4 linked regions of the Homo sapiens genome follow. The protein of the gene in region 2 interacts with the protein of the main gene of each other region in a pairwise test. Each region holds a gene or a part of one and is shown on either strand. Other genes may lie near its edges. The genes, in order: TMEM71, SEC22A, RASGRP4 and SLC14A2.

Region 1 (7,634 bases), on a different chromosome or scaffold from region 2:
TGCCTTTTGATTTAATGTTGGGGAAAGGCTTTGTAGAGTTTATGATAATGTAAGAAATCTAATTCTGTCATTGTGATAATAATAATGTCTAAAATCTGTAAAGTGCCTTATAATTCACAAAGAGCTTGTATACGTTAGTTCACTTAAACAGCACAACAACGCTGTGAGGTGGATGCCATTATCTTAGTTCTGCAAAGAGAAGAAAAAGACTAAGAGAAATGATGAACTTGTCCAAGGTCACATAGCTATGAGGTGTCACAGCCAAGATTTAAAAACCACATCTAGACAGAACATAACATTTTGTCTGAAGTGGGCAGGGAAAGACAATTGCAACTTTGCATAATGGAAGTCTCTAAAGACAAAAAATGAGAACATATATTATGAAATATTTGTCTTTGAAAACTCTTTGCAATCAGTACAATATTTCAGTACTGCCAAGCCACAGTAGAAACTACAAATTATCCAGCAATTATAAGCATAAGAGTTAATTCAATCATGAACCTCAGTATTATTCTAATCACCTTAAATAAATTAAAGCTGATTTGAGGATTACCACATAAAAAACCTAAAGGAGAATATAAACAGACCTCAACTTAATTTTTGCCAAATGCTTCAAAAGCTCAATTTTGCAACAGTTGTTTAAAACTTGGAATGACTTTATGTTATGAATGCATTTATTTTTGCTATTTATGCCATGAATGAGGATTGAGTCAGCTAACAAAACCTACTTAGCCCATAATGCGGGTGGAATGCTGAAGATTGGCAATTCAAAATATCACAGTAGTAAATTATGTCACTGCAAATGTACAGTTGTTCATGTACATTGTGAATTCAGTTATTGTGGGTTCAACTGAATACTCAACCATCCTTCTAAAGTGTGTTTCTATTCTTAGCCTCCCCTGATTTCATGTGGAATTTGGAAAACATTTCCTCAGAAACAAATCTAGCTTGAAAAACTGCAAAGATCACTAGACTTGGATACTGAAGGATGAATGGGTTTAGATTTGAGATCTACAAAGATATGAGTTGTGTGATTTGGGATGAATTATTCATGGATTCCTTCCTTAAGTTGCCATTTGCTGAATACCTTTTTCAGCTCAGCTCAGGTGTAACCTCCTTTAGGAAGCCTACCTTGATTCTACTGGCTCCTCCTTGGCCCTTAGCTGCTCCCTCCCTGTGCTCCCATTATACCTTGTTCATATCTCTGCTAACTCTCTTTTCACATGGAATTAAAAATTCTATAATATTTCTCAATATTCCCCCACTAAACTGCAAGCTCATTGAGAAAATAGCATTGATTTCCTGTTCTCTGGGGACAGTGCTCATATTTTCCTTGAGGAATCACCTCTCCCCCTCTCTTGGTACACAGTTTAGGTGAAGTGACTGATTTTTTCTGACTTTCCTCCTAGCATTTGATTCCTTTCAAGCTTTTCGGAGTTTCACATATATCAGGGGAACCCACCCCCAACATTTCAACGTAGGTTCTCCCTATTTTCCCTAAGTGTCAGCCAGTCTGAGAAATAAACAGAAAGAGTACAAAGAGAGGAATTTTACAGCTGGGCTGCCGGGGGTGACATCACATACTGGTAGGACTGTGATGCCCACCTGAGCCGTAAAACCAGCAAGTTTTATTGAGGATTTTAAAAGGGGAGGGGGTGCAAGAACAGCAAGTAGGTCACAAAGATCACATGCTTCAAAGGGCAAAAAGGAGAACAAAGATCACATGCTTCTGAGGAAACAGGGACAGGGCAAAATCAGAAACTCCCAATAAGGGACTATGTTCAGCGGTGCACATACTGTCTTGATAAACATCTTAACAGAAAACAGAGTTCGAGAGCAGAGAACCGGTCTGACCTCAAATTTACCAGGGCTGGGGTTTCCCAATCCTAGTAAGCCTGAGGGTACTGCAGGAGACCAGGGCATATCTCAGTCCTTATCTCAACGGCATAGGACAGACACTCCCAGAGCAGCCGTTTATAGACCTCCCTCCAGGAATGCAATTCTTTTCCTAGGGTCTTAATATTAATATTCCTTGCTAGGAAAAGAATTTAGCGATGTCTCTCCTACTTGCACATCCATTTATAGGCTCTCTGCAAGAAGAAATATATAGCTGTTTTTGCCCGACCCCGCAGGCAGTCAGACTTTATGGTTGTCTTCCCTTGTTCCCTAAAATCGCTGTTATTCTGTTGGTTTTCAAGGTGCACTGATTTCATATTGTTCAAACACACATGTTTTACAATCAATTTGTACAGTTAACGCAATCATCACAGTGCTCCTGAGGTGACGTACAGCCTCAGCTTATGAAGATGACAGGATTAAGAGATTAAAATAAAGAGAGGCATAACAAATTATGAAAGCATTATTAGAGAAGTGATAAATGTCCATGAACTCTTCACAACTTATGTTCCTCTGCCGCAGCTCCAGCTAGTCCCTCCATTCAGGGTCCCTGACTTTCTGCAGCACACATACTTATCAACAAAGTTTTGTTCATGTGAAACATGCCCTTCCAAAACCAATAAAACTCAATTACTGGCCTCTTGTCATTAGCCTAGACAGATGTAATCTCTTTCTGCAGAACTGGAAACTGGAAAGGTGTAGGCACAGAGCCACCAGGATCCACCATGTATGGAGGGCCTTTTTTTCTTTTCTTTTCTTTTCTTTTTTTTCTTTTTTTTTTTTAACAGGGTCTCACTCTATTTCCCAGGCTGCAGTGCAGTGCATGATCTTGGCTCACTGCAGCCTTGACTTCTTAGGCTCAGGTGATTCTCCCACCTCAGCTTCCCAGCTAGCTGGAAATTCAGGCATGCACCACTATGCCCAGATAATTTTTTGTAGAAATGGGGTCTCACCATGTTGCCTAGGCTGGTCTCCAACTCCTGGGCTCAAACGATCCTGTCACCTCAGCCTCCTGAGTAGCTGGGACTACAGGCATGAGACACCATGACTGACTAATTTTTGTATTTTTTGTAGAGACAAGGTCTCACTATGTCACCCAGGCTGGTCTGGTACAACCTTTTAAAGAGTAACACAGACACAGAAGAGAAGAGACAACAAAAGACAGAGAATGCCAGGATCCTGCACTGTAAGCCTGGAATTTTCATTAAGATGAGCCAATAAATTCTATTGATTAATCCACTTTGAGTTGGGTTTCCATCCATTGGAACTCAAAAATCTTCAACTGATACAACTGATGTATCTGCCTATATCTTTGGCACCTGGAAAAGAACACACATGCAATACCTACATGTGAAGGGCTTAATGGAAGATGGAGACCTTGTCCACCCAGGACTTCATAGCTTAGTGAGAAAGAGGAAAATAAACAGTTTCTATAGTGATATATAGAGTGCTAGGGAATCAAGGCGAAGTGAAGCGCTACCTCCACCAGCCAGAAGGGGGTAGAGAAGGTGCATAGAGGTGGTCTCATTTAATTTGAGACTTGAGGAAGAGTAGGAGGCCACCCAGGTATAGCAGGTGGGAGAGAGATTCCAGACCCAGCAAAGAGCTTATATTTGTTCTTACAAAACTCTTGGCAAAGAGTACAAAGGTTAACTTTACCTGTCTGAATCTGAATATTCTTATGTGTAAAATGGAGGTAGCACACTTATTAATTGGTCCACCAGTAATGAAGCATCATCTCTGTGCCTATGTGGGCATTTTGGAATTCACAGATGACAATGACCTAGTGCTTATCTTTAAGGAGCTCACAGAGGCAAACATGCAGTGACAGTGCAAATAATGGGCATGAGAAAGAGAAGTCCTGGGAGCTAGGGGAGCACCAAGAAGGGTGGGCTCCCTGGAGGAGGTGGCTATTGAGCCTTCTTAGGTGTTGATAACCTGTCATTTCAACACCTGGAAAGGGAACTATAAAAAAACAAAAACCAAACCAAAACAAAAAAAACCCTTGAACACTTATCTAGTAGCTGCACTAGGAACAAAATGTACAAAGCATATTGATCTTCAGGACTAGAAGAGTGATGGCCAGTGAAGTGAATATTTATGATTTTTTGAAAGCAAATAAACAGAAAATATTTTTTCCATTTAACTTCAATGTTATGTAACAATAACTTCACATTTACTGAGTATTCAATAGACATGACATAGTATGCTAAGTACTTTACATGAGTTATTTTAGTCATGACAAGGTAGGAATTATGATCCTCTCCATGTAGAGATAAAAATGAAGTTTGAGAGGGTTTGGTAAACTGCTTCTGAGTTATAGCTAAGGAGTAGGGATCTGGGCTTTTAATCTCAGCAAGCCAATGACAGAGTGGGCTCTTTCACCTTGGTGCAGCACCATGTCCAAACATGCTTAATCTGACATTAGCAAACCAGAGACTAAGGGACATGCTTGTTGAATTTATTACAGCTTTGCTCCTGCCAGAAAATACCAATGCCTTTATTATCTTTTGACTTTTCCTTGTCAGAAGCATAGCATTAAAGGATGTTCTTTTTGTTGTTTCCTCTTCTTCTTCTTCTTTTTTTTTTTTTTGGAGTCTTACTCTGTCACCCAGGCTGGAATGCAGTGGTATGATCTCGAGTGATCTCGACTCACTGCAACCTCCACCTCCCAGGTTCAAGTGACTCTCCCTGTCTCAGCCGCCAGAGTAGCTGGGATTACAGGCATGTGCCACCATGCCCAGCTAATTTTTCTATTTTTAGTAGAGATGGACTTTTGCCATGTTGGCCAGGCTGGCCTCAAACTCCTGACCTCAGGTGTTCCACCCGCCTCAGCCTCCCAAAATACTGAGATTACAGGTGTGAGCCACTGTGCCTTCTTATGTAGTATGTCCAATACACAGCTAAGAATTAAAATAGCAAACATCTGTGTATCTTCCACTTTGCTTTATTGAAGCCTAACATTTTACAAAATATTCTCAGAATTTTTTTTTTTTTTTGAGATGGAGTCTCGCTCTGTCACCCAGGATGGAGTGCAATGGCGCGATCTCAGCTCACTGCAACCTCTGCCTCCTGGGTTCATGCAATTCTCCTGCCTCAGCCTCCCGAGTAGCTGGGACTATAGGCACCCGCCACCATGCCCAGCTAATTTTTTGTATTTTTAGTAGAGACAGTGTTTCACCATGTTAGCCAGGATGGTCTTGATCTCCTGACCTTGTGATCCGCCCGCCTCGGCCTCCCAAAGTGCTGGGATTACAGGCCTGACCTGCCGTGCCCGGTCTCTGAATATTTTTTAAGTAAAACACTGCAGATCCAGTTACTGATGCCTCTAACATGACACCCAAAGGCAGTCATCTCCTCTGCAAAGGGTCACCTGGGCTTTGGCAGAGGCCCCATGTCCTCCCTTCCTCGCACAGGTTGGTACCAGCTCCTAACTGCATTTTAGTCATCTCCAAGTCATTCTCAGGCTCTGAAAGGAAGAATTCTTTGGGTGTGGCAAATATTTAAAACACCTGAACTCACCTGAATGATCCGAACTATTCTCTTGGAAACGTTCAGAAGCTGTCAACTGGGACTGAAGAGACAAGCTATGGGAGTTTCCTCCAGGAGGCTGAGATATGATGTGGCTGGAAGAGGAGGTGATCACAGACTCTGCATTCATCTTCCCTGACTCCCAGTCATCAGTCAGAGAAGAACAGTCTAAATCATCTGCTGAAAAAGCAGAGGGGTTCAGTGTGAGTGTGTGTGTGTGTGTGTGTGTGTGTGTGTGTGTGTTCAGTGACTGCTCAATGCACAGTTAGTTCCTAATAATCACAAAAATAGTAATATTGATACGGTATTGCACTACCATAGTGGGATGGGAGAAGGATTTTTGGATGAGATGAGATGATGTATTCGTCTGTTTTCATGCTGCTGATAAAGACTTTCCTGAGACTGGGTAATTTATAAAGAAAAAGAGATTTAATGGACTCACAGTTCCACATGGCTGGGGAGGCTTCACAATCATGGTGGAAGGCAAGGAGGAGCAAAGTCACATCTTACATGGATAGTGGCAGGTAAAGAGAGAATAAGAGTCAAGTGAAAAGAGAAATCCCTTGTAAAACCATCAGATCTCATGAGACTTATTCACTATCATGAGAACAGCATGAGAAAGACCCATCACCATGATTCAATACCCTCCCACCAGATCCCTCTCACAACATGTGGGAATTGTGGGAGCTACAATTCAATATGAGATTTGGGTGAGGACACAGGCAAACCATTTCAAATGGCATTTCAATTTGTCTTCATACTTGAAGGTTGAAGAGAAATATCTTCAGTGCAGAGATAAACAAAGGCCAGAGGCATCTTCAATGACACTGAAGTTTGTATAGATGGATTTAAAGGATATGTAGTCAGTATATGAACCTCACATCTTTATAGGACCAAACTTTACAGCAGTCAACTCTTTCTACTTCTGATTCATTTATTCATTCAACATTTATTGAATGTGACTATATATTAGAAACTGACCTAGCTGCTGGGATATAGTGGTGAATTAGAACAACATCTCTGTCCTTACATATTGCTGAGTGGCAGGGAAGAAAATATCTTGTGATAAGTGTCATGAAGGAAATTCTGCCTCTATAAAATACATTGAAATGCCTAGATAAAATATAGCAACCATCTGTTTAAATTTTTTTATTCAAAGAGGCTATTTCATACACACATAGCTTCAAGAACATGCACCCATTTTCTCCTATGATGATTCATACATAAATATATTTTACTTGCCCTAAACTTAGCCTGACATTCTCACAAAAAGTCAAGTTTATTGCAAAAGCATGCATGCAACTTCAAGTTTCAAACATGCTAAGATGATTCCTCATAACACTTGGTGTCTTCAATGTGAGGTCACCAAGGAATGAATTTTAATCCTTGATTCTTAGTTTGAGTCAGAGATTAGGGGATCCAAAACTCTATAAGCCAAAGCTTCCTTGGAAAGGATGAATGTGTTAAGAATGCCTTTCAACCACAGGGATAGTTAAGCACCACACCTCTGACTCAACCACTGGAAGTCTCCCATTTGGCTCACCTGGCATAAATGTACCTAGGAATTCTCTTGGTTCTGTCTTGAGTGGTCTGTGTCACATTCCAGGGTTTAACTTTACTCTTATGATCTTGGGTAAGAATTCGTGCCAGTTTAGAGCTCATTGACTTGGAAGCAAAGCCACTCAGAAAGAGTAGCCAGAGTCCTGCTTTGGGATGTAGGTGTTTTCTAAGCTGACATCTAAAAGGGACTGCACATGCCCAACAAATGTACTTTTCTTTATAGCTGAGCTCAAAAGAAGGAAATATTCCCAAAGGCCAAGCCAGGGAAACCTATAACTCTAAGCATACGCTGTGGACAAAGCTGCCAAAAGGGGTGGGGAGAGGGCCTTAGAAGTCATAGTAGTCAAAGGTCTATGGATTAAATGACATTAGGGACAGAAAAAAGGCCTTGGTCTCAAGAGAGGCAGAAAATTAAAACCGAGTTTCTGTAGGGACTCAAAATGCTATTTCCTCAATGAAAGGATGGCTAAGAAAAAAAATCTGCCCACTAGTTCTAGGAGAAGGCATGAAAGCTTATCTGTTTTGGCCTATGTAGTGGGTGGGAGGAAAATGTCTCCGCCAACACTTTATAAGTAAGTGGGTTTTCAGTTAAATTTTTTTTTTTTTTTTGAGACGGAGTTTTGCTCTTGTTGCCCAGGCTGGAGTGC
Region 2 (7,328 bases):
GGTATGCTGCTTCAAGTGCTTTTGGGAAAGAGGCCAGGTATTAATGTAAATATATTTCAAATACAGACTGAAAAAAGCAAGCAAATATTGCAATTATCTTAGTATATAAAAGAGGGTATCTTCGCTCTCATGGTACACCTTAATCAAAAAGCAGTATTTAGGAATTATCTAAATTAAAATAAAATACACCTATTAGGATAAAATACTCCAGCAGCAGGCCTGGACTCACCAATTTCAGAACCCCTCAACTCCTTGGCTTTACCAAGAACAGTCATATTCCCTGAATATAACACTGGTCACCTTCACTAGTTCCATGCTAGTGCGAAGAGCCCTGCACTAGATCAGGGTTGTGTGTGCTTAGCTATGTGAACTGGCTAAGTCATTACCATCTGATCACCTCTGTGTCCTCCCCCTTAGAGTGAGGGCAGCTACTACTGCTCCTATGCTACAAAACTATGAGGAGGTAAACTCAGGCTTGCTCTTAGAAGTGCAATAGAAACAGAAGATCATACACCATGGAGGCCTAAAGTGATTCTTTCTAAAGAGCCTAAGGACTTTTTTTTTTTTTTGAGACAGAGTCTCACTCCGTCACCCAGGCTGGAGTGCAGTGGTGTGATCTCGGCTCACTGCAACCTCCGCCTCCTGGATTCAAGCGATTCTCCTGCCTCAGCCTCCCAAGCAGCTGGTACTATAGGCGCCTGCCACCACGCCCAGCTTATTTTTTTTGGTATTTTTAGTAGAGACGGGGTTTCACTATGTTGACCAGGCTGGTCTCAAACTCCTGACCTCGTGATCCACCCACCTTGAGCTCCCAAAGTGCTGGGATTACAGGCATGAGCCACCGTGCCCGGCCAGGACTTTACACCAATTTCTTTTTCTAAATTCAAAGTTCTTTTTTTGGCAGCAATGATACAGGTGGGGAAATGATATAAACACGGAGATACAGGCACCAAATAATGAAAGAAAACATTTCTATACATAAAACATTTATACCTGTTTTCATTTTTTTACATTAAGATGTAAACATCCTCTTATCCAAAATAGCCAGTGAAAAAATAAAAACAAAAACAAAGTAAGCCTTTAAAAATAGTTGGTGAGGAGTTTTCAAGTGTTCTTGCTGAATGTATCCGAATACCAAACATTGTAACTCGTCAATTCAATGACAAGGAGGTAGCTCCTGAACCAAACTGGTGCGAGCTGTGTCAATACAGAGCAAAATCTCAACCAGAATGCTCCAACTTCCCTATTTACAAGAAAATTCTGTTTTAACCATTAGTTTAGAAAACCTTTCTTTTTTGAGACAGAGTCTCGCTCTGTTGGCCAGGCTGGAGTACAGTGGCGTGATCTTGGCTCACTGCCAACTTCCACCTCCTGGGTTCAAGCGATTCTCCTGCCTCAGCCTCCCGAGTAGCTGGGACTAAAGGCACGCGCAACCACACCCAGCTAAATTTTGTATTTTTAGTAGAGATGAGGTTTCACCACGTTGGCCAGGCTGATTCTCAAACTACTGGTCTCAAGTGATCTGCCTGTCTCGGCCTCCCAAAGTGCTGGGATTACAGGCCTGAGTCACCGTGCCTGGCCTGAAACCCTTTCTAAATTGAACCACTTCACTTTCCTGGCTACAAAATGCCCAACACAATTCAATGGTGTTTTGATGATTCAGGATCTTGTGATGCCTTGGGGTATCTCTCAGAATATGCATACTTTTGTTAGAGGAGAAGACTGGAGCCAACTACTATTTCCTGTTTTACATGAATCCCTGATATCATAAGCTTATTGTCTTCCTTTTACCTCATTCTCCTAAAAGGAGGGTGCAGACTAAGGTTCTAGTTAAGCAAGATTTTACAGTTCTAGACATATCCACAAATACTGGTTCACGCAAACAAGACAGTTCACTAACTTTTTACCCTCTATTTCTCTACTTAATAAATATGCCTAGTAACAACAATTACAATGTAATGGGATCTGTTTTTCTGGATGATATCAAATTTCAGTATCCTATGAATTCCTTGTTTGAAATATTTTCTTTAAAAAACAAAGGAAAATCACCCATGAAGATGACTTCCAAAACCATGAGAGTTATAGATTTTGCTAGTGGAATCCAACTGTGCTTCCTATATTATTAATTCATAACTGCTTAAACAATCTTTAAAACGTTATCAAAAAACAAGTAAGTTCTCTCAGATACTAGGGGCTTAATTCCTCAAAGCCATAAAATAATGAGTTGCTAGGAAAGCCACCTTCTGATTCTTACTACAGTCAAGCATTTCCATAGTGCGGACCCATGCCACTGGTGGCACACAACATGTCTTTAAGTGATGCACAACATAGAATAATGCTGAATCACAGTGAGAATGTCATTCCCTTTACAGTTTCCTTTTATCCTCTGACTATTCCAGAGACAGTGCCTCATGCTGGTGCTGGTAACATCTCCCTCACTGCCACAAAGAAAGAGCCTAAGATTCGGAGCCTTTCTAGGCATTAGTTTCTAGCTAGAACTGAACAACATTTTTTGTGTTCATCTTACTTATTTTGTGGTTACCTTTTATTTATGGCAAACTGATACTGGTTTTCCACTTGGAGCAGGATTCATTTTTTTAAAAAAACTTTAAAATTTAAAAGATAAATATTAAGAAAATAATACAAGTAGTACTAAAGAGACTGAAGTTTGGGAAACAACGGCTATAGTGTGAGTCATATTTTTTAGACGTGATTTCAAAAGAAACAATAAATGTGGATTAGAAAGGAAACATCCATTACTGTATTTTCGATACTTGTGATGTTCCACAGACGAGCTCATCACAGTCTTCTTCTACATCAGGTGATTTCCAGAGTTAAGATTCAAGCAAAAATATAAAAGTAAAAAGAACCAATTTCACACCATCTTGGACTTTATAAACTCGTAGTACCATAAGTGTGCAAATAATCTGATATTTATCACAGTCATTTATTTAAAACATAAACTTTCCAATTTCTGCAGCTTTTTATTTGGTCTATACTAATGCCTCACAAAGGCAAACTCAGGTTGTAGAGTTCCTCCTGCCTGGTCCTCAGAGCAATACCACATCTATTTTCTGAACTCTTCAGGAAGGATTCAGGACTGCTGGCCAAGACTTCCAATGGCATATGACTGTTCTTCCACTGTTACGGCCTTGAAGAGAGAAATCCCCTCCTCCTCTGAATGATAGTCTCATGGCCAACATTCTTCTGAGAGGACTCTTCCATGCTCACAGGCACATCATGCTGATTTTAAAAAAGGAAAGTTGGAGAGAAAGAAAGCAGAGCTTCTCCTCTGTGGGGAACAGCTTCTTCATCACAGTGCAGTTATGATATGTTCCCTCCTTATCCCCCTGAAGCCAAGGCAATAGATCTGAAGGATGGTGTCAGACATCATAATCGGGAGCCTTGCCCTGGGCTTGCCTTAGCCAGATCTGTAGTGTAACAAATGCTCCCACAGTCACATGAAAGAAAAGCTGCCAGAGGTTGCGCAGTTCATAGAGATACATGTTGCATAGACAGATTAAGCCAAAAGTCAAAAAAGATTTGACATTCCGCCAGCCGGTGTAGTAGACAAGTAAATAACACTGTTCAAAATATAAAAATGAAAGATGATTAGGGTTACAGGAAAAGAAACAGATGTTTCTAATATAAAATTGTAACAGGTCAGAGAGTAAAATATAAGAATGGATAAGGTTATTTTTTATCTAGGGATAAGATAATGTAGCATATATCTAAGACATTCAGCTATGAAAGTTTCACAGTTTGAAAGGGAAATAGATTTTCCTCTTAAGTTTTTCATTTTTCAGAAGAAAAGCATTTTGTATCATATTTTAAATGGAAGTACAATGGAATGACTTCCTTGCAAACAGGCTGAGCAAATTCCCCATGGTGACAGGCAACTAAGAAGCATTCCCAGGGTCTGCGGGTGTTCCATTCTCACCCAGGAAAATACAAAAAAGCACATACAAGCTATTCTACAAAATGGACTCTTAATATAACCTGAGTCTGAGTATTAACAAAATCCACAACATTTTACTAGTCGCCCACTGAGTACAAGGAACTATGCTAGGTACAGCATCTGACTGAACATTTGAGGGAGAATTCATTCAACAAATATTTACTCAGGGCCTGCTACAAGTCAGGCATTGTTCTTCAGTTGTAAGTAAAACAAAGCCCTTGTTCATATAAATATTAAATTTTAATGGGGAAGAATTATAAATGTATTTTAAATATATAATATCAAACAGTTATGTCTTGAAAAAGAGAAAGCAGGAAAAAGGGATAGGGAGTAAGAATGATAGTGGGTGCTATTTTAGATGAAACGGTCAAGAAAGTACTCCCCCTCTCACCGCTCCTGCCCATCCTGGCATTCACCCTTTACTGCTTTATTTTTCTCCACAACATACTATAAACATACTTGAGAAATGTGCTTATTTTGTTTGTCATCCATAGGCTTTCAACAGAATCTATTTCATGAGGGGTGAGATTTTTTACTGTTATTTACTCATTTATCTCCAGTGCCCAGAACAGTGCCTGGGACATAGTAAGTGCTCAATGTGTTGAGTGAATAAACTGTTTTCTAGAAGATGTCTAAAATTCACAACCTGGTAAGTATAGGAACCACAAAGTCTAAGAGAGAGGCCCAGGTCTCTCTGAGAAACTGTGTCCAGGCTTCAGAATGGGAAGGACACACCAGTGTCTGTTATAATGCAGAAAGAATGTGGAAATGTTCTGTTAAATATGTTTAGTTCTTATGCAAATTTGGACTGTTTACTTAAAAAGAAGACTGCTATCCAAGCAAAATGAATTGGAAGTATTTATCAGTGATTTTCATCATATAAGACTGAAAAAATAGAAAAAAATAGCTTTTTCTTTCTAAACAATTTTAGAGTTAAAGATGCAAAAACAGTTTATTGTATACGCTTTGTTTACTGTATACTCTTCACCCTGTTCCCCGTTATCCTCTTATGTAATCATAGTATAATCATCAAACCAGGAAATGAACATTGATTCAATACTCTTAGCTAATCTACAGACTTTATTCAGATTTTGCCCATTGTCCCACTAGGGTCCTTTTTCTGGTCCAGAATCTAATCTGGGATTCTGTATTGCATTAATTGTCATGTATATTCCAATCTGTAACAGCTCCTCCATCTTTTTTTAAAAAAATTTTTGGCCAGGCATGGTGGCTCACACCTGTAATCCCAGCACTTTGGGAGGCCCAGGCAGGCGGATCACGAGGTCAGGAGATTGAGACCATCCTGGCTAACACAGTGAAACCCTGTCTCTACTAAAAATACAAAAAATTAGTCGGGTGTGGTGGCGGGCGCCTGTAGTCCCAGCTACTCGGGAAGCTGAGGCAGGAGAATGGCATGAACCTGGGAGGCGGAGGTTGCAGTGAGCCGAGATCACACCACTGCACTCCAGCCTGGGCAACAGAGCAAGACTCCATCTCAAAAAAAAAAAAAAAAAAAAAAAAATTCATGTCCTTGACAGTCTTGAAGAGTATTAATCAGTTATGTTGTAGGAATGTCCCTCAACTTGGGTGTGTCTGATGTTTTGTCAAGATTGAAATGAGGTTATACAATTTTGGCAAGAATATCAGAGGTGATACGCAATACATGTTATTACATATTAAATTAGATCACTTAATAAGGTGGTATCTATTCCCTTTGCAATTATTGTCTTGGGGGCAGGGAGTTGAGATTATGTGAATATCTTATCTCATCATACTTTTGCTCATTAATTTTAGTATCCATTAATGATTCTTGCCTGCAACAATGATTACTGTGGTGTTCGCTTAATGGTGATTTTATATTTCCATTTTTTATCTATATTTATTGCTTGGAATGCTACTGTAAAAATGAGCTAGCATTTCCAGTAATATATACACACACACACACACACACACACACACACACACACATATATTTAATTCAAGGTTTTCCAAGGCTTTTAAAATAATAGGTCTCTACCCCACATATTACTTATTAATTACAAAGAAGAAAAAGATATCTTTGCAATGGGGATCTGGTAGACACCATCTTAACCAAATGATCAAACTTATCACATTTCCTGACTGAAGCAATGAGAGATATTCAGCATATTATACTATACAGCACTGTTGCCAGAATATTTAACCTTAATATAATCACGAGTAACAGACTAATCCAGATTGTGGTACTTGCCTGAACTCTTAAAAAAGTCAATGTTAAGAAAGATAAAACCAAACTAAAATAGAACAACAACAAAAAGGCTGGGAGACTGTATCATAGATCAAAAGGTACACGACAATCAAATGAAATGCATAATCCTGGATCAGGAGAAATATAGCCACAGAAAACATTTTGGAGACAACAGAAATAATCTGAATAGGAATCATATATTAGATAATATTGTATCAATGTTAAATTCTTAGATGTGATATGAAGTCCTGGCTATGTAGACAGATGTCTGTATTCTTAGAAGATACATCATGAAGTATTTTAAGGTAAAAAATATCATGATGTCTGTAACTTACTTTAAAAACAACGGCTCAGGGACTTCTGTTTCTGGGAAGATGGAGTAGACACACTTTTCCCTATTTCTCCCACTAAGTACAAATAAAAACACTGGACATTATATGTAAAACAAGCATAAGAAGACTCTGAACTGTGGAGGAAAAGCAGACAAATAAAGAATCTTGAGATCCAAGAATGCCACAGTGGTAGGTTCTCTGAGTTTTCTTTTTTGCTTCATATATCCCAGACTTGGAGCTGAAGAAGCTGGCAACTAGAAATGCCAAGGCATGCATATCAAAACAAACAACAAAAAAGACCCTCAATAACATCTTGCTCTCTCTGGTAAAAGACCAGGAAAGAGGCACCTTAGCAAGACAGAAAACTTTTAAACAGTAACTATTATCCTCTAGCCAAACATCACACAAAAAACCCCTGTGACCCACCCATACCCACACCATCAAATGTTGAGAGCCTAGAACATTATAAGCAGATGTTTTAACCCTTCAGCATGGCTTCAGAAAAGGCAAGTAGAAGCCAGGACTTTCATTCCCACTAGATGGCAATGAATCCCTCCTCTACCCTCTTATTGTGATATCAGTGGAGAACACGTGGGACTCTGGACACCCACTTTCACTTGACAGTAACAAGATAATTCATTTCTCATCGGTAACAAGACAGTGGGATTCTCATCAGAAACCACAGAGGCCAGAAAAAAACTAGAACATTTCTCAAGTGCTGAAAGAAAAAAATACTGCCAAATCCAGAATTCTGTATTCAACAAAAATATCCTTTAGGAATAAAAGGAAAATAAAAACATTTATCAGATGA
Region 3 (8,429 bases), on a different chromosome or scaffold from region 2:
TAAGAACTCCTTCCCCAGGCATTGCCCCCAACTTCCTCTTGACTGCTTCCAGGGCATCCTGGAAGAGACTTCCTTTTGGCAGATCCCAGGATTACTCCTGGCCTACCAGGGACTCGGGAGAAGACCCCTGGAATCTCTTCTGTCCTCCCCAGGCAGAGGCATGGGAGGACCTGCCTTCAGGAATTGCCTCCTCAGGGCTCCCGTTTGGTCTCTAACACCCTCCCCTCCTTCCTCCCACAGCCCTCAAGAGAGCAAGGCTCTTGGACCAGTGTGATGGCTCACGCCTGTAATCCCAAAGCTTTGGGAGGCCAAGGTGGGTGGATCACTTGAGGCCAGGAGTTCGAGACCACCCCGGCCAACATGGTGAAACCCCCATCGCTACTAAAAATGCAAAAATTGGTCAGGCGTGATGGCGGGCGCCTGTAATCCCAGCTACTCAGGAGGCTGAGGCAGGAGGGTCGCTTGAACCCAGGAGGTGGAGGCTGCAGTGAGCCGGAACTGCATCACTGTGCTCCAACCTGGGTGACAGAGTGATTTCTGTTTCAAAAATAATAATAAAAAAATTAAAAAGAGAGGCCAGTCACAGTGGCTCACGCCTGTAGTCCCAGCACTTTGGGAGGCTGAGGTGGGTGGATCACTTGAGGTCAGGAGTTCGAGACCAGCCTGGCCAACATGGTGAAACCCCATCTCTATTAAAAATACAAAAATTAGCCAGGCGTGGTGGTGGGCTCCTGTAATCCCAGCTACTCAGGAGGCTGAGGCAGAAGACTTGCTTGAACCCAGGAGGCGGAGGTTGCAGTGAGCCGAGATCGTGCCACTGCACTCCAGCCTGGGCAACAGAGCGAGTCTTAGTCTCAAAATAATAATAATAATAATAGTAATAATAGTAATAATAATTCTCCCTCTGCCTGGTGCCTCCCAGAGGCTGCTGTTCCTGATAGGGGAAGAGGGTAATGGAGAGACAAGGATGGTGGGAGCAGGGAGGCTGCTGAATCCAAGCTTCAGACGAAAGTAGAATCCAGAAATTTTTGCCAGCTGTTGTGACTTCGTGTTAGTCACTTAATTTCTCTGGGGCTCAATTTCCTCGAAGGAAAAATGAGGATAGTCCTTGGACCTTCTCCAGGGATTTCTTTTTTCTTTCTTTCTTTCTTTTTTTGGAGACAGGGTCTCACTCTGTCACCCAGGCTGGAGTGCAGTGGTGCGATCTCAGCTCACTGCAACCTCCACCTCCCGGGTTCAAGCAATTCTCCTGCCTCAGCCTCCCAAGTAGTTGGGACTACAGGCACGTGCCACCACGCCGAGCTAATTTTTGTATTTTTAGTAGAAATGGGGTTTCACCATGTTGGCCAGGCTGGTTTCAAACTCCTGGGCCCAACTGATCCTCCCACCTTTGCCTCTGAAAGTGCTGGGATTACAGGTGTGAGCCATCACGCCAGGCTCCCACCTCTACCCTTTTTCAGACAGGGTCTTGCTCTGTCTCCCAGGCTGGAGCACAGTTGTGCAATCAAAGCTCATTGTAACCTTGAACTCCTGGACTCGAGTGATCCTCCTGCCTTAGTCTCCCAGGTAGCTGGGACTACAGGTGTGCACGACCATACCCAGCTAATTTTGTGTGTGTGTTTGGGTGTGTGTCAATGGGGGGGGGGGTCTCACTATATTTCTCAGGCTGGTCTAGAACTCCTGGCTTCAAGTTCTCCTTGTCTTATCCTCCCAAAGTGCTGGGATTAGAGGCATGAGCCATCGTTACTAGAAGGGACATTTTAAAGTATTATATATGTCCTAGGCTAAGGAAGGAGCATTCTAACTAAGTCAGCATTTCCCTAAGTGTGGGCACCCAGCTAGTACCAAAAGCATCACCTGGGAACTGGATATCAATACAGATTCTCAGGTCCCAACCCAGACCTACAAAATCAAACACTTTAAGGCTAAGGGTGGTGGCTCATGCCTCTAATCCCAGCACTTTGGGAGGCCGAGGTGGGTGGATCACGAGGTCAAGAGATCGAGACCATCCTGCCCAACATGGTGAAACCCCATCTCTACTAAAAATACAAAAAAGTAGCTGGGTGTGGTGGTGCACACCTGTAGTCCCAGCTACTTGGGAGGCTGAGGCAGGATGATCGCTTGAACCCGGGAGGCAGAGGTTGCAGTGAGCCAAGATTGTGCCACTGCACTCCAGCCTGGCGGCAGAGCGAGACTCCGTCTCAAAAAAAAAAAACAAAAAAAAAAAAACCAAACACTTTAAAGGTAAGCCCAGCAACCTGTATTTTACAAGCCCTCCAGACAGTTCTGAGGCTCGCTCCAGTTTGAGAACCACTGGTCTAGAGTGTCTCATTGAGTACTTACAGGCCTCTCCGAGGTAGAGGATATGATTGTTCTACTGACAGAAGAAAAACCCGAGACACAGAGCAGTTAAGTGACTTACCTAAGGTCACACAGCTAGGAAATTAGGCAGCCAGGAGTCTACCACTAAACTGCTGGGTGGGGAGGAAAGCCCTTTGCCCATCAGAGTGGTGCTGGGGGTGGCAGGAGGAGTTACCCAGGCTAGGGAGCCACCCACCATCTGCCTCTGTGGGGACAGAAGGGCCAGCTTGCCCAGGAGATGAAGCCCATTCCAGAACCGGCCGCACAGCCAGCCACTAGGCCCTGTCCTGCAGCCCCCTGTAGGGGTCTGGAACAGCCAGGAGTGGTTTAAGAGGCAGGGGAGTCGCCTTGCCCTGTGCCACACTCCCCTCTCCTGGGCCAGGCCCTGCAGGAGCCTGGAGTTTCCAGTCCACGGGGATGGGGAACCAGGAAGCCCCCAGGGAGGGCAGAGACACTCAGCCCAGGCCAGGGATGGAGGTGGGGTGATGAGGAGTGGAAAAGGGGCACGGAGCAGCTCAAACTCCAGGGACAACACGGTACAGATGCCACATACAAGCGACTGCAGCCGTAGCTGGCTCCAGACTCCCTGAAGCATCCACCTGGCCCCCCTGCGCCTGATCCCAAAGAAGTCAGGAATCCTGCCACCCTGGCGAGTGATCTCCCCAGCCCTCCCATGCAGAGGGAGGCCTCAGGGTGCTGCCGGGCTCCCTGGGGAGGGTCCTCTCACCTCTTACTGTCTTTTCTGTTCATGCTTCCCGCGTGGGGTGAGGAGGCCGGGGGTCTTGCAAGAGTAGGGCTCAGCTCCTCCCCTTGCCCAGGACTCCAGCTTCTCAGCCCCTAGGGAGCTGGGGCCTCCTCGGTGCTTGGGAAGGAAAGAGGAACTGCCCCTCCCCACCCACCCTCAGGCCAGGGGGAAGGAAGAGGCTGGGGAGAGACCGAAGGCCCCCCTCCCCCACACGGGGATCCCTTCTGCTGAGGTTTCCGGCATCGCTGGCTCTCCCACCCTCAAGCTCCCCGGCGGGCTCTCTATCTCCCCCATCTTTCGGTGTCGAGACCCGTCACTGTCATACTTCAATAAAAGAAGGGGCTTTTCTTTTTAAAGCATGACTGATATTTATGTAAAAACACACACACTCACTCAAAAAGATAAGTCTGTCTGTCTAGAAGGACATATTCATATATATAATTCATGAAGGTTTGAATGGAAACTCACAAGACATAGTATTTTGTATATTTCTTCATAGGCGTCTCTTATTCCTAGTTTAAGTGATACCATTTGTACCCTGGAAAACATTTTCACTTTCTGACTTTATTGTAACAAACCTCCACATAGCACCTACTGTGTACCACACACTGCTGTAAGGACTTTAAAAATATTAACTCATTTAATCCTCACACAATCCACTGTTACCTTAAAAAAAATTACATACCGGACCAGGCACGGGGGCTCACAGGGGCTCACGCCTGTCATCCAGCACTTTGGGAGGCCAAGGCAGGCGGATCGCTTGAGTCTAAGAGTTTGAGACCAGCTTGAACAACGTGACAAAACCCCGTCTCTACAAAAAATGTAAAACGTTAGGCCGGTGTGGTGGCTCACTCCTGCAATCCCAGCACTTTGGGAGGCCGAGGTGGGCGGATCACCTGAGGTTGGGAGTTTAAGACCAGCCTGAGCAACATGGAGAAACCCCGTCTCTACTAAAAATACAAAATTAGCCAGGCGTTGTGGCACATGCCTGTAATCCCAGCTACTCGGCAGGCTGAGGCAGGAGAATTGCTTGAACCCAGGAGGCGGAGGTTGCCGTGAGCCGAGATCGCGCCATTGCACTCCAGCCTGGGCAACAGGAGCGAAACTCTGTCTCAAAAAAAAAAAGTTAGCTGAGCGTAGTGATGCACACTTGTAGTCCCAGCTACTCAGGAGGCTGAGGCTAGAAGATTGCTTGAGCCCAAGGAGGTCGAGGCTGCAGTGAACCATGATGGTGCCACTGCACTTCAGTCTGCGTGGCAGAGCCAGACCCTGTCTCAAAAAACAAAAAACAAAAAAAAAAAACACACACACACATCAAAAAACATTAGAGATGGAGGTAAAGCCTTGGGGAAGCCCCTCCCCATCCCCTGCCTTTCTTAAGCAGGGTGTGACCAATATGACACGTTGTCGAGTTTCGTCCAAACTGCTGTCTGTGCGTTTAAGCACATCATATAAACATGTGCTCCTAGAAACAGACTTTTCTTTTGAGTGTGCATTTTTTTCTTTTTACCTAAATGTGTCATGCTCGACACTTTTTTTTAAATTGAAGTACAAAAAAGATCACGAATCATTAAGTATTTAGGTTGATGAAATGTCACCAACTGAGCAAACCTGTGTGACATTCATACAAATCCAGACACAGAACATTCTCACCCTCCACAAGCCCCCTGTCTTTCTTCCCAGCACGAATTCCCACAGATCCCCACTCGCCCGAAGTCTGGCGCAGTAGTTTTGTCTTGTTTTGAGCTGGATAAAAATGGACTCCTGTATTGAATCTGGGTTCTTTCTCTCCACGTCTTGTCTTTGCAGTTCTTCCATGTTATCATATTTGGTTATAATTTATTCCTTTTTTTGGCCGGGCGCGGTGGCTCACGCCTGTAATCCCAGCACTTTGGGAGGCTGAGATGGGCAGATCACTTGAGGTCAGGAGTTCGAGACCCGTCTGGCCAACATGGTGAAACTCCCATCTCTACTACAAATACAAAAATGAGCCAGGTGTGGTGGTGCGTGCCTGTAATCCCAGCTACTTGGGAGGCTGAGGCAGGAGAATCGCTTGAACCCGGGAGGAGGAGGTTGTAGCGAGCCGAGATTGCACCACTGCACTTCAGCTTGGGCGACAGAGCGAGACTCTGTCTCAAAATAATAATAATAATAATAATAATAATAATTCCATATAGTCTTTCATTATGTGACAATTCCATGACTTATATATATATATTTATTTATTTAGAGATAGGTGTTGTGGATAGTGACTAAGCGGGCTGGTGGCATGCTAACTTCTATTTTTTTTTTTTATTTTTGAGACAGAGTCCTGCTCTGTCGCCCAGTCTGGAGTGCAGTGGCGTGATCTCAGCTCACTGCAACCTCTGCGATTGAAGCGATTCTCCTGCCTCAGCCTCCCCAGTATCTGGGATCACAGGTGTGTGCCACCACACCCAGCTAATTTTTGTAGAGACGGGGTTTTGCCATATTGGCCAGGCTGGTCTTGAACTCCTGGTCTCAAATAATCCACCCGCCTCAGCCTCCCAAAGTGCTGGGGTTACAGGCGTGAGTCACAGCACTAAGTTCTATTTTTCATCAGTCTAGAGTCTGGTAATAACTAGACACTAAAACATTTTAAGTTAAGTGAGTTATCTATACAAGAGGACTATATGTCCTAGACTGTAAAAAAAAGACAAACTTATAGCTTCTCTGTTTTTTTTTTTTATTTTTATTTGGTCCTACCAACCTGACTCTTTTTTCTTAATTAAGACTCCACAGCAGGGTCTCCCTCTGTCACCAAGGTTGGAGTGCAGTGGCGAGATCCTAGCTCACTGCGGCCTCGGACTCCTGGGCTTAAGCCATCTTCCCACCTCAGCCTCCTGAGTGGCTAGGACTACAAGTGCACACCACTGTGCTCTGCTAATTTTTTTTTTATTATTTTCCTGTAGAAACAGGGTCTTACTTTGTTGCCTAGGCTGATCTCGAACTCCTAGGCTCAAGCAATCGTCCTTCCTATGCCTCCAAATTGCTGACTCTCCAGGCGTGAACCACTGTCCCCGGCCTCCGTGATTTATTGATCAATTTTCCTGTGATGGACATCTGAGTTGTTTCCAGGTTGGGGCTGCTGTGACTATTTGAGCATCTGACTTTTGATGAACATAGAGTGTACCATATTGTAGGGCAGTACCCAGGAGTGGAATAAATGGGTCATAGTAGTTACTGTGATTCTACCAAACATAGCATGTTAGCAATTCATTGAAATCGTTCTCTCAGAAGTATATTTTTCCACTTTTTTTTTCACTAAAAGAAAGAACCGTGGATGTATATTTTTTCCAATGCAGAACATTTAGACAGTCACTGAACTCGCCGTCTTTAGTTTTTCCATCACGCGATGTTACCATAGCTTCAGACTCTCTCTTCCTGCCCGTTTTCACCCTCTCTCCCCCTGGCCTCATGGTGTTCTGTCTGACTCTCTCAGACCATCTCCTGTAGCACCTGCATCTTGAATGTGACTTAACAATCCTGGCTGAGCAGAGACTTCGTAGTGTGGCAGTGTCTCCAGGCCCTGGGGACCCAGAAAAGCCTCAAGGAGGAGGTCAGAAATCCTGGCACTTGTTTCTACTGTACACAGGCAGCCTTAGTCCTCGGGCTGGCCAAGAATACCCACAATACCCGTGCTGATGACTACAAAGGAAGGGACTTCTGAATCAAACCACAGAAACTCCTAAGGCAGAAAAATGATGGACATGATAACATGCAAATACAGACTTTCTTCTTTTGTTGCTGTTCTTCTTTCTTTCTCTTTTAAATTTTAAAGATGGGGTCTTGCTATGTTGCCCAGGCTGGTCTCAAACTCCTGGGCTCAAGGGATCCTTTCACCTAGACCTCCCAAAGTGCTGAGATTACAGGCAGATTTTCTTTTAACGAAGACACCATGGGACAAATGTCAGATGACAGAAGGGGAAAAGGTGTTTGCAATATTTAAAAATCAATGAGATATTAATATCTAGAATATAGGTCAGGTGCAGTAGCTCATGCCTCTAATCCCAGCACTTTGAGAGGCTGAGGCGGGCAGATCACTTGAGATCAGGAGTTCGAGGCCAACCTGGCCAACGTGGCAAAACCCCGTCTCTATTAAAAATACAAAAATTAGCAGGGTGTGGTAGTGGGTATTGCTCTGTCATCCCGGCTACTTGGGAGGCTGAGGCATGAGAATCAGTTGAACCCAGGAGGTGGAGGTTGCAGTGAGCTGGGATTGAGCCACTGCACTCCAGCCTGGGAGACAGAATGGGACTCCATCTAAAAAAAAAAAAAAAAAAAAAGAATATAAAAGGAACAGCTGCAAATCAGCAAGCGAAAAAGACAGCAACCATAATAGAAAAATGGCCGGGCTCAGTGGCTCCTGCGCCTATAATGTAAGATTACATGCTTGTAATCTCAGCACTTTGGGAGACCGAGGTGGGTAGACTACCTGAGGTCAAGAGTTCAAGACCACCCTGGCCAACATGGCGAAACCCCGTCTCTACTCAAAATACAAAAATTAGGCTGGGCACAGTGGCTCACGCCTGCAATCCTAGCACTTTGGGAGGCCAAGGCAGGCGGATTGGCTGAGCTCAGGAGTTCGAGACCAGCCTGGGCAACACAGTGAAACCCGATCTCTACTAAAATACAAAAGAAATTAGCCAGGTGTGGCAGTATGCGCCTGTAGTCCTGGGGGTGCTGAGGCAGGAGAATTGCTTGAACCCAGGAGGCGGAGGTTGCAGTGAGCCGAGATGGTGCCACTGAACTCCAGCCTGGGCGACAGAGCAAGACTCTGTCTCAAAAAAAAAAAACAAAAAAAAGTGAGCAGGGATCACAATGAGCAGATAACAAAGAAACCCAAAACTCTGATAGGCACTTGAGAAGATGCTAGAAATTGTTGGTAACTCATCAGGGAAGTGGAAATTAAAATGACAGCGAGTCCAGGCGCGGTGGCTCTTGCCTGTAATCCTAACACTTTGGGAAGCTGAGGTAGGAGGATCACTTGAGACCAGCAGTTCAATACCAGCCTGGGCAATATAGTAAGACCCCACCTCTATAAAAAATTTAAAAGTTAGTTGGGCGTGGTGGCACAAGCCTGTTGTCCCAGCTGCTCGGGAGGTTGAGGTGGGAGGATCCCTTGAGCCCAGGAGTTCCGGGCAGCAGTGAACCATAATTGCGCCACTGCACCCCAGCCTGGGCAACAAAGTGAGATCTCATCTCTAAAAATAAAATAGAGAAAATAAATTAAAAAACAGTGAGTCACCCTATATAAATCTGGCAAAAATTAGTTAAGTTGGAAATGCCACATGAGGGTTGGGGA
Region 4 (7,634 bases), on a different chromosome or scaffold from region 2:
GAGTGTGAGCTCATGAGCTCTCATTTCTGAACAGAACACTTCTGCTATCTCAAATATCCCATCTGAATATTGCAGACAGGTGTTTTTCGCATTGGGATTCTAGAGCCAGCATTCTAGAAAAACGCCATCTGGATGGTTCATGGGAGAACTGTGTCTACCATGCCAATAGGTTCTCTTTAGCAATCTTTCCAGAGCTCAGCCCATGGGTTTAATGCCCTCTATGCAGCAAGAACATGTTCTTGAAAATTCATGGTACCACCACAGGGGTCAGAGGCAGCTCAGGGCACCTAATCCCCCCTGCCAGAAAAACAACCTGGAGGTCACATCTGGCTGGTGATGGGTCTCAAGAGTTTTCTTGGCAGTCAGATGCTCTCTTGAGTTCCTTGTTTACCATCTTTGGTGGCAGGTGACAGCAGGTGGCTGGCTTCCTGCAAACCCACTTCGGATATCCAGATTCCCTCACACCCTCCATCTGCCCACCCAGGGCTGCCCACACTGAGCACTTGCCTACTTCCTGCCCCGGTTCCATTTCAGACAAGTCCCCAGTGTTCCAGTTCTTTGACTGGGTCCTCCGAGGCACATCTCAAGTGATGTTTGTGAACAACCCCCTCAGCGGCATCCTCATCATCCTCGGCCTCTTCATCCAGAACCCCTGGTGGGCGATCTCAGGCTGCCTGGGTACCATCATGTCCACCTTGACAGCCCTCATCCTGAGTCAGGACAAGTAAGTCCCAGAGGCTCAGGGTCCAAACATGTAGCCAAGAAGTCACTCCCCATGGGGACCATTCTTCCTCTTCCCAGCTGAGAAATCCTCAAAATAAGGACACTGACAACTAAAAATGACTGTTCCCTGGTTATTTTGTCATAGCAACATATTTCTAGAGAAATATGAAGGATTCATAGGGTTGTCTTCCTTCCCCACTCCCAGAAGGGTGGTCTATTTGAAGGCGTGTGTAGTCAGGCCCCAGATAAAAAGAATCTGACTCAATAGGAAAATGTAAAGGGCCCTGGGGAAGCCCCTGCTCCACCTGACCCTCCCTCTCCTGCCAGGTCGGCCATCGCTGCAGGATTTCACGGCTACAATGGGGTGCTGGTGGGGCTGCTGATGGCCGTGTTCTCAGACAAAGGTGACTACTACTGGTGGCTGTTGCTACCCGTCATCATCATGTCCATGTCTTGGTAAGTTTGCTTTTGAAGGGTTGTGGGTTCATATCAATGGCCACCAACCTTTTCATCCCAATCCCATGACCGTCTGTCTAAACGTGATATTAAAGTGGCATGTATTTAGCTTGCACATCAGAAATGTCCACTGGACTAATAACTAAGTTTATACCATGGTAGCCCCATGCTAGGTCTATACACAGTATCCCATTAGCGACCACCCTTTATTATTCTTTTAAGATCTAAATGGTTTTTGGTCTCACCCTGCCAGAGTGCAGAGAAAGAAACTGAGGCCCACATTGGTTAAGAGCTGCACTATAGGGTCCTGTCAGTTTCTGGAAATCTTTTCAACCCTCCCCTACCCCGGCTTTTCTAAATCCTTGGGACCCCTGAGCAGACCAAGACCACCTCCCAGGGTAGGCTGAAGGCCCAGCCATGGGGAAGCCCTCAGTGCCTGCTCTACCCCATGTTGAGAAAACACAGGGCACCCTGGCCACAAAGCCCATGCACACAGCCACTCAAAAAAACATTTGTTGAATGAATGTGATTCCCTCCCCTCGGCCTCCCCAACCTGATGCCTGGGGATGGAGCTATAGGATTCCTGAAGGAAGTTCTGAGACTGCCTGCCTTATATCTTCTTCTGAAGTTGAGTCTGGGTGCCCCACCCTGTCACTGTGCAGGGAGGAAGAGGCCCAGGGAAAGACCTGCTCAGGGCCAGTCAGGCTCCAGAGAATACCCAGCAGGCTGCTTTTCTCTAGGAAGGCACAGGGAGCCCCCACTGCAGCACAGTCTAGTGTTATGACCAGGCGGCTTCCTGACCAGCATCTCTCATGCTTCTGCCATCAGCCCCATCCTCTCCAGTGCCCTGGGTACCATCTTCAGCAAGTGGGACCTCCCAGTCTTCACACTGCCCTTCAATATCACTGTGACTTTGTACCTGGCAGCCACGGGCCACTACAACCTTTTCTTCCCCACAACGCTGCTGCAGCCTGCATCCGCCATGCCCAACATCACCTGGTCAGAGGTCCAAGTGCCCTTGGTACGTATCATGGAAGGAGGAAGGGCAGGTCTGTCCACACTGGATGTTACTGGCATTTGCATATTTTGCACATCAGAAACATCCACAAGTAATAATTTTTAACAATTACACAGTACCAAGCATTCTACATATATATCTCATGAGCTGCCATCCTTTTCTACTTCTGAGAGCAAAAAGGGCTAGTTTTGGTCTCACTCTATGATAGCACAGAGAAGGAAACTGCGGCCACGTTAAGAGACCTGCCTTAGGTCTTACAGCCAATTAGGGAGGAGCAAAGTCAAGACTAGAACTTCAGCCTCCTGACTTCCAGCCTGGGCTCTTTGTGGATGTTTAAAAAGTCTTTTTGAGGCTTACAGCTTGCGTTGTGCATTTTCTTTCATTCAATCACACGGAATCATTCAAGTCGTACACATCATGCTACCATCTATTGGCTTAAGAAGTCGTTGTTCCAACCTCCAGAGTTTATTCCCTTCACTCACCAAAGCTGGGCCTGGTGGCACATGCCTATAGTCCCAGCTACTCAGAAGGCTGAGGTGGGAGGATCGCTTGAGCCCAGGAGTTTGAGGCTGCAGTGCGCTGTGATTGTGTCACTGCACTCCATGAGACTCTATCTCCAAAACAAAAACAAAAACCCCAAAATCAAATCGTTTTCTTGCTAAATACTGGTGCTTCTCAGTGTAAACTCAGGGCTTTTTCTACTACACCATGCTGTTGGTTTTAAAGCACAGGTGTTCTTTCATTAAGAAACATATAACAGAGCTTTTAAAGTTTTTTTTAATAAGTATTCTGTATATAATCCTGACCTCTGGAAGTCAGCCAAGGTGATTAATAAGAAGCTGCACTCACAGTATTAAGTCAGCCTAGAGAAATGTGCCTATTAGCCAGCCACCTTATCTAACAAGGCACGTTTTCTCCAAGGCCCTCCTACTTTCCGTTACACGAAACGGCTCCACAGTCTGGCGCTCACTCTGAGACTTCGTTATTGGCAACTCATCATCTGACCACAAAATCACTTGGGCTTGTTGAAGGAACTTTCTCTAAAATAATGATGCCTCGTTTCTCTTAGCTTTCCACAGTAAGCAACAGCGTGGTGTAGTAGAAAGAGCCCTGAATTTACACTGAGAAGCACCAGTATTTAGCAAGAAAACTATTCGATTTTGGGGTTTCTGTTTTTGTTTCAGAGATAGAGTCTCATTCTGTCACCCCGGCTGGAGTGCAGTGACGCAATCACAGCTCACTGCAGCCTCAAACTCCTGTGTTCAAGGGATCCTCCCACCTCAGCCTTCTGAGTAGCTGGGACTACAGTCATGTGCCACCAGGCCCAGCTAATTCTTTATATTTTTTTGTAGAGATCGCTCTTGTCATTGTTGCCCAGGCTGGTCTCAAACCTCTGGCCTCAAGCGATCATGCCACCTCAGCCTCCCAAAGTGCTGGGATTACAGGCGTGGACCATTACACCTGGCTGAGAACTATTTGTGTTAGTCGGATCCTTGATCATTTTGTGTGTGTGAGGACCTTCTTGGACCAGAAACAAGAAAAGGTGCTGTGCTGGCAGTTCAGCTTCTTAAGCTGCCCGTTCTTAGTCTACCCAATTAATATCTTTTGGAGACAAACTTGCTCTAAGTGGCATGCTATGGGGAAATGATGTCAGAAAATGCAGATTTTAGATATTGCATTCTATATGTCACAGTTTCAGTTGAGAAGAAATTTTGAAATTTTATAGAAATGGAAAAAAATGAATAATCCTGTACAAACACTTGAGACCCACCACCACCACCACCACCACTCCACCAGTGTTCCAGGAAAGAAAAATTCAATTTTGTGGCATTATTCTTTAAGAAGTAACTTTCTGGCCAACTGAATGGATTATGACAATGACTCATATGTTTTGTCTTTTTGACCTTTAAAATTAGAGCCTTGAGTTTCTGATAAATAAGTGGTGAATTTCAGAGGGATTGTCTAAACTTCCCAGCAATGTTGAGTCCCCACGGCTTCCTCTGCTCTTGTGACCACTGAGAGCCCTCTGAAGGGTGCAACTGGCTGAGGACAAAACTGCCCATGCTGCTGCTTCTGTATGTGCAACTCTCTCTCGCCTGTCCCCTTTGCCCTGCATGGTGAGGCCAGAGCCCTCATTCTGTTCTCTGCCCTGGGTAACAGGAGACTAAGCCCAAAGCCTAACCCACTCAGCCTGTCTCCTGTACACACTCACTGTGGCGTGAGGGCCCCCGAGCTGCAGGATCTCCCTCCCCGGCCACGCGCAGAGGGAAGAGTTCTCTAGAGAAGAGCGTCCTTGCCTTAATCTATATACAGGGACTCGCCCCAGGACACTGCCTCTCCTCAGCTTCCTGCCCATGGGCCTTGGCTAGACCCTCCAAAACACAGTCCCTGTGGCTGGGGAAGCCCGCATTTCCAGGATCCTCTTCCCAAACTCTCGGACCTTTGTGCAGGTGCCCACAAGGCACCAGACTTTTTCAAGTGTTTTTCCATTCACAGACAGGCCCCACCAGCCCCAGAGATAGATGGAGCACGGAATCAAGCAGGGTGCCCTGGGGGTTTATTAATCAAAATAGCAGATGCTGGGCGATACTACCTTCTCCTGGCCGCTCCTGTAGATACTAGTCGAGTTCCTCCTCCAGACCTTACTAACAAAATCACACCCCAAACATGTTGTACTTGAAAACACACAGGGCCATTTTTTTGTCTAATATTTCACCTTCTCATCATCTTTTTAGCTTTAAAAAAAAATCATGGCCAGGCGTGGTGGCTCACGCCTGTAATCCCAGCACTTTGGGAGACCAAGGCAGGCGGATCACCTGAGGTCAGGAGTTCAAGACCAGCCTGATCAACATGGAAAAACCTCATCTCTACTAAAAATACAACATTAGCCAGGCATGGCGGCATATGCCTGTAATCCCAGCTACTCGGGAGGCTGAGGCAAGAGAATCTCTTGAACCCGGGAGGCGGAGGTTGCAGTGAGCCAAGATCACGCCATTGCACTCCAGCCTGGGCAACAAGAGCGAAACTCCATCTCAAAAAAAAAAAAAAAATTCACAAAGGGTTTTTAAACCCCAACTTTGATCAGACATATATTACTTTTCTAATCAATAGTACCCTACCTTGAAAGGTTTTCAGTTTCTCTTCCCTGAGGGATAAATGCCTCACGCTCATATTTCTAAATAAAGGAAACTCAACATCCTAATCCATCAGTGTTCTAAGAACTCAAGATTAAGATAATAAAGCTTTTGTTCCTGTTAAAGTTAACCTATTTGAATAGAAACAAAAATCCTGGACATCCATTGCAAAATGTTAGTGGGAAGGGTTCAGTGCCAAGTCTCTTGCAGCCAAGGTCAAGTTGTCTCTTTTGCCTCCATAATGAGCATGTAATCCTGTTATGCCTACAGCTTTTGAGAGCCATCCCCGTTGGAATTGGCCAAGTGTACGGCTGTGATAACCCCTGGACTGGAGGCATCTTCCTCATAGCTCTGTTCATATCCTCACCTCTCATTTGCTTGCATGCAGCAATTGGATCCACCATGGGGATGCTAGCAGGTCTGTGTCCTCACTTCCCTGGGCTGTGAGGGGGTTAGAGCCTGGGGCCAGCTCCAAATAAAATGGTGACTCTCATCTTCAACACTCCACCTGCTGATTCCTGTGAACTTTCCCTCCTTCTGTTGTACCCTGTTTCTCCGTTTTTGATCTAGCCCCTTTATCCTCCCCTGAGCCACAGCTGCCCTCAAGAAAGGCTTTGGTGTTAGTCATTCACACCTTAGTATAAATTTAAAGTTTGGGGGAAGTTTCTTCCAGGTATATTTACATGTTAAGTGATCTGCAATGACAGCAAGAAAGATTCGTTCTCCATTAGAGAATTAAGGTATCGATGAAGGAGGAGAGGTTCTCTTTCTTGGCAGGGGAAGGATATTCTCTGGACTGTTTAAATCAGACTTCTGTCCTTACTCAAAGAATCTCTTCAACCCATGCCAGCTTAACTGCTAGTATTCATGGGACTCTATGGCCATTTGTTTCCTTTAGATGTTTTTTCACAGAATAAAGCCAGAAGTCCTTTTTGTATAACTACCTAAGAAGATAACTGGCTCCGGGCTTTGAGGACTGTGGTAGGTTTCAGGGCCAGCAGATGGGCCCCATAAGACCCTAGACCCAACCCTGATGCCTGCCTTCTGTCACAGCACTCACTATTGCGACGCCCTTTGACTCCATCTACTTCGGCCTGTGTGGCTTCAACAGCACCCTCGCATGCATAGCGATAGGAGGCATGTTCTACGTCATCACCTGGCAGACGCACCTCCTCGCCATCGCCTGCGGTAGGTACTCCCCACAGAGGATTTGTTTCCTTTATAAAAGGCTTTTTACATAAAACTGTTTTTTTATGTTTTTTAATGGTTATTTAGTAATTAATAGATTAAACACTATTTTCACTGAATACTCAACGTTCAGTCACATGAAGACGGTGGTGGAGGTTTGATTGTTGTTCCTGGGCTGTCTCCTGTGATTGCTACTCTCCTGGCGGGGGTTGGAGCAAACTGGCTGAGCAACTCTTATGCAGGTTACTCGTTACATATGGAATTGGGTGATTTACGTCTTCTACAGCGATTCACCTTAAGCATTCAAACATTAACCACAGACCCTTCAAATGACTCCTCTTTGTTATATATTTGTTCAGAGTCCCAGGAAATTAGATCGACTGTAACAAGTTGGTAGATTTGTATGTCCTCATCCTTGAACATCCTTTATTTCTTGATGTTATATGACTGGAAACCAAACAAAACTCCTTTTGAGCAGAACATTTAAAACAGAAGTTCTATTTCAATACATCTGTAGACTCTGTGAACATTATCTATATAAACTTATTTTTAAAAATAAATTTATAATAAAAATTTTCCAAATATTCTTGCTCGGGAAGATGTTCTGGATCAGCTATGGCCACATATTTGTTTCCTTAAGATAATTTGTAGATATATTTTCTTTTGCATTTTATGACAGTGACTACGAACTCTAAACAAGATACGAAGGGTAAAGCTGCTGTCTTTTTCATTTGCTCTTCTTAAAATTACTTTTTGCTACACCAACCTAAGGCCAGCACACTGTAGTTACTTAAAAAAAAAAAAAGTAGCTGTCATATTGCCCAAATAAAAGGTAGCCATTCACCTAACACCCACCACAAAGTAGGCACTTTAAATACGTCATCTCTACCTTAACACTAATTCTCAAGGTTGGTATTACTATTCGTATTTTGCAAACGAGGAAAAGTTGTGTCAAAGAGCAAGACTAAGGTGAGACAAGGGAGACACGTGGGATGCAAAATTTAAGGAGGTGCTTACTCTCAGGGCCAAGCAGGTGATGACCCTGACATATCCCCATGACCCTGAGAGTGAAGGCCACTTGAAATTTTGCACCCCAGGTGCTTCACTCACCTCCC

Evidence for each region.
Region 1: the proteins of SEC22A (region 2) and TMEM71 interact in binary tests that used the Homo sapiens proteins (3 or more experiments, as listed by UniProt).
Region 3: the proteins of SEC22A (region 2) and RASGRP4 interact in binary tests that used the Homo sapiens proteins (3 or more experiments, as listed by UniProt).
Region 4: the proteins of SEC22A (region 2) and SLC14A2 interact in binary tests that used the Homo sapiens proteins (3 or more experiments, as listed by UniProt).

The regions. Positions count from the first base shown.
Region 1 is NC_000008.11:132,722,380-132,730,013, forward strand, and holds part of TMEM71 (transmembrane protein 71), read right to left. Parts: intron 5,933-7,634; coding exon of another isoform or gene 5,870-5,932; intron 5,608-5,869; coding exon 5,419-5,607; intron 1-5,418.
Region 2 is NC_000003.12:123,267,778-123,275,105, reverse strand, and holds the end of SEC22A (vesicle-trafficking protein SEC22a), read right to left. Parts: intron 3,585-7,328; coding exon 3,384-3,584; 3' UTR 970-3,383; downstream 1-969. UniProt on the Homo sapiens protein: May be involved in vesicle transport between the ER and the Golgi complex.
Region 3 is NC_000019.10:38,422,981-38,431,409, forward strand, and holds the start of RASGRP4 (RAS guanyl-releasing protein 4), read right to left. Parts: upstream 3,240-8,429; 5' UTR 3,112-3,239; coding exon 3,089-3,111; intron 1-3,088.
Region 4 is NC_000018.10:45,667,299-45,674,932, forward strand, and holds part of SLC14A2 (urea transporter 2), read left to right. Parts: intron 1-534; coding exon 535-724; intron 725-1,050; coding exon 1,051-1,179; intron 1,180-2,007; coding exon 2,008-2,200; intron 2,201-5,601; coding exon 5,602-5,749; intron 5,750-6,384; coding exon 6,385-6,519; intron 6,520-7,634.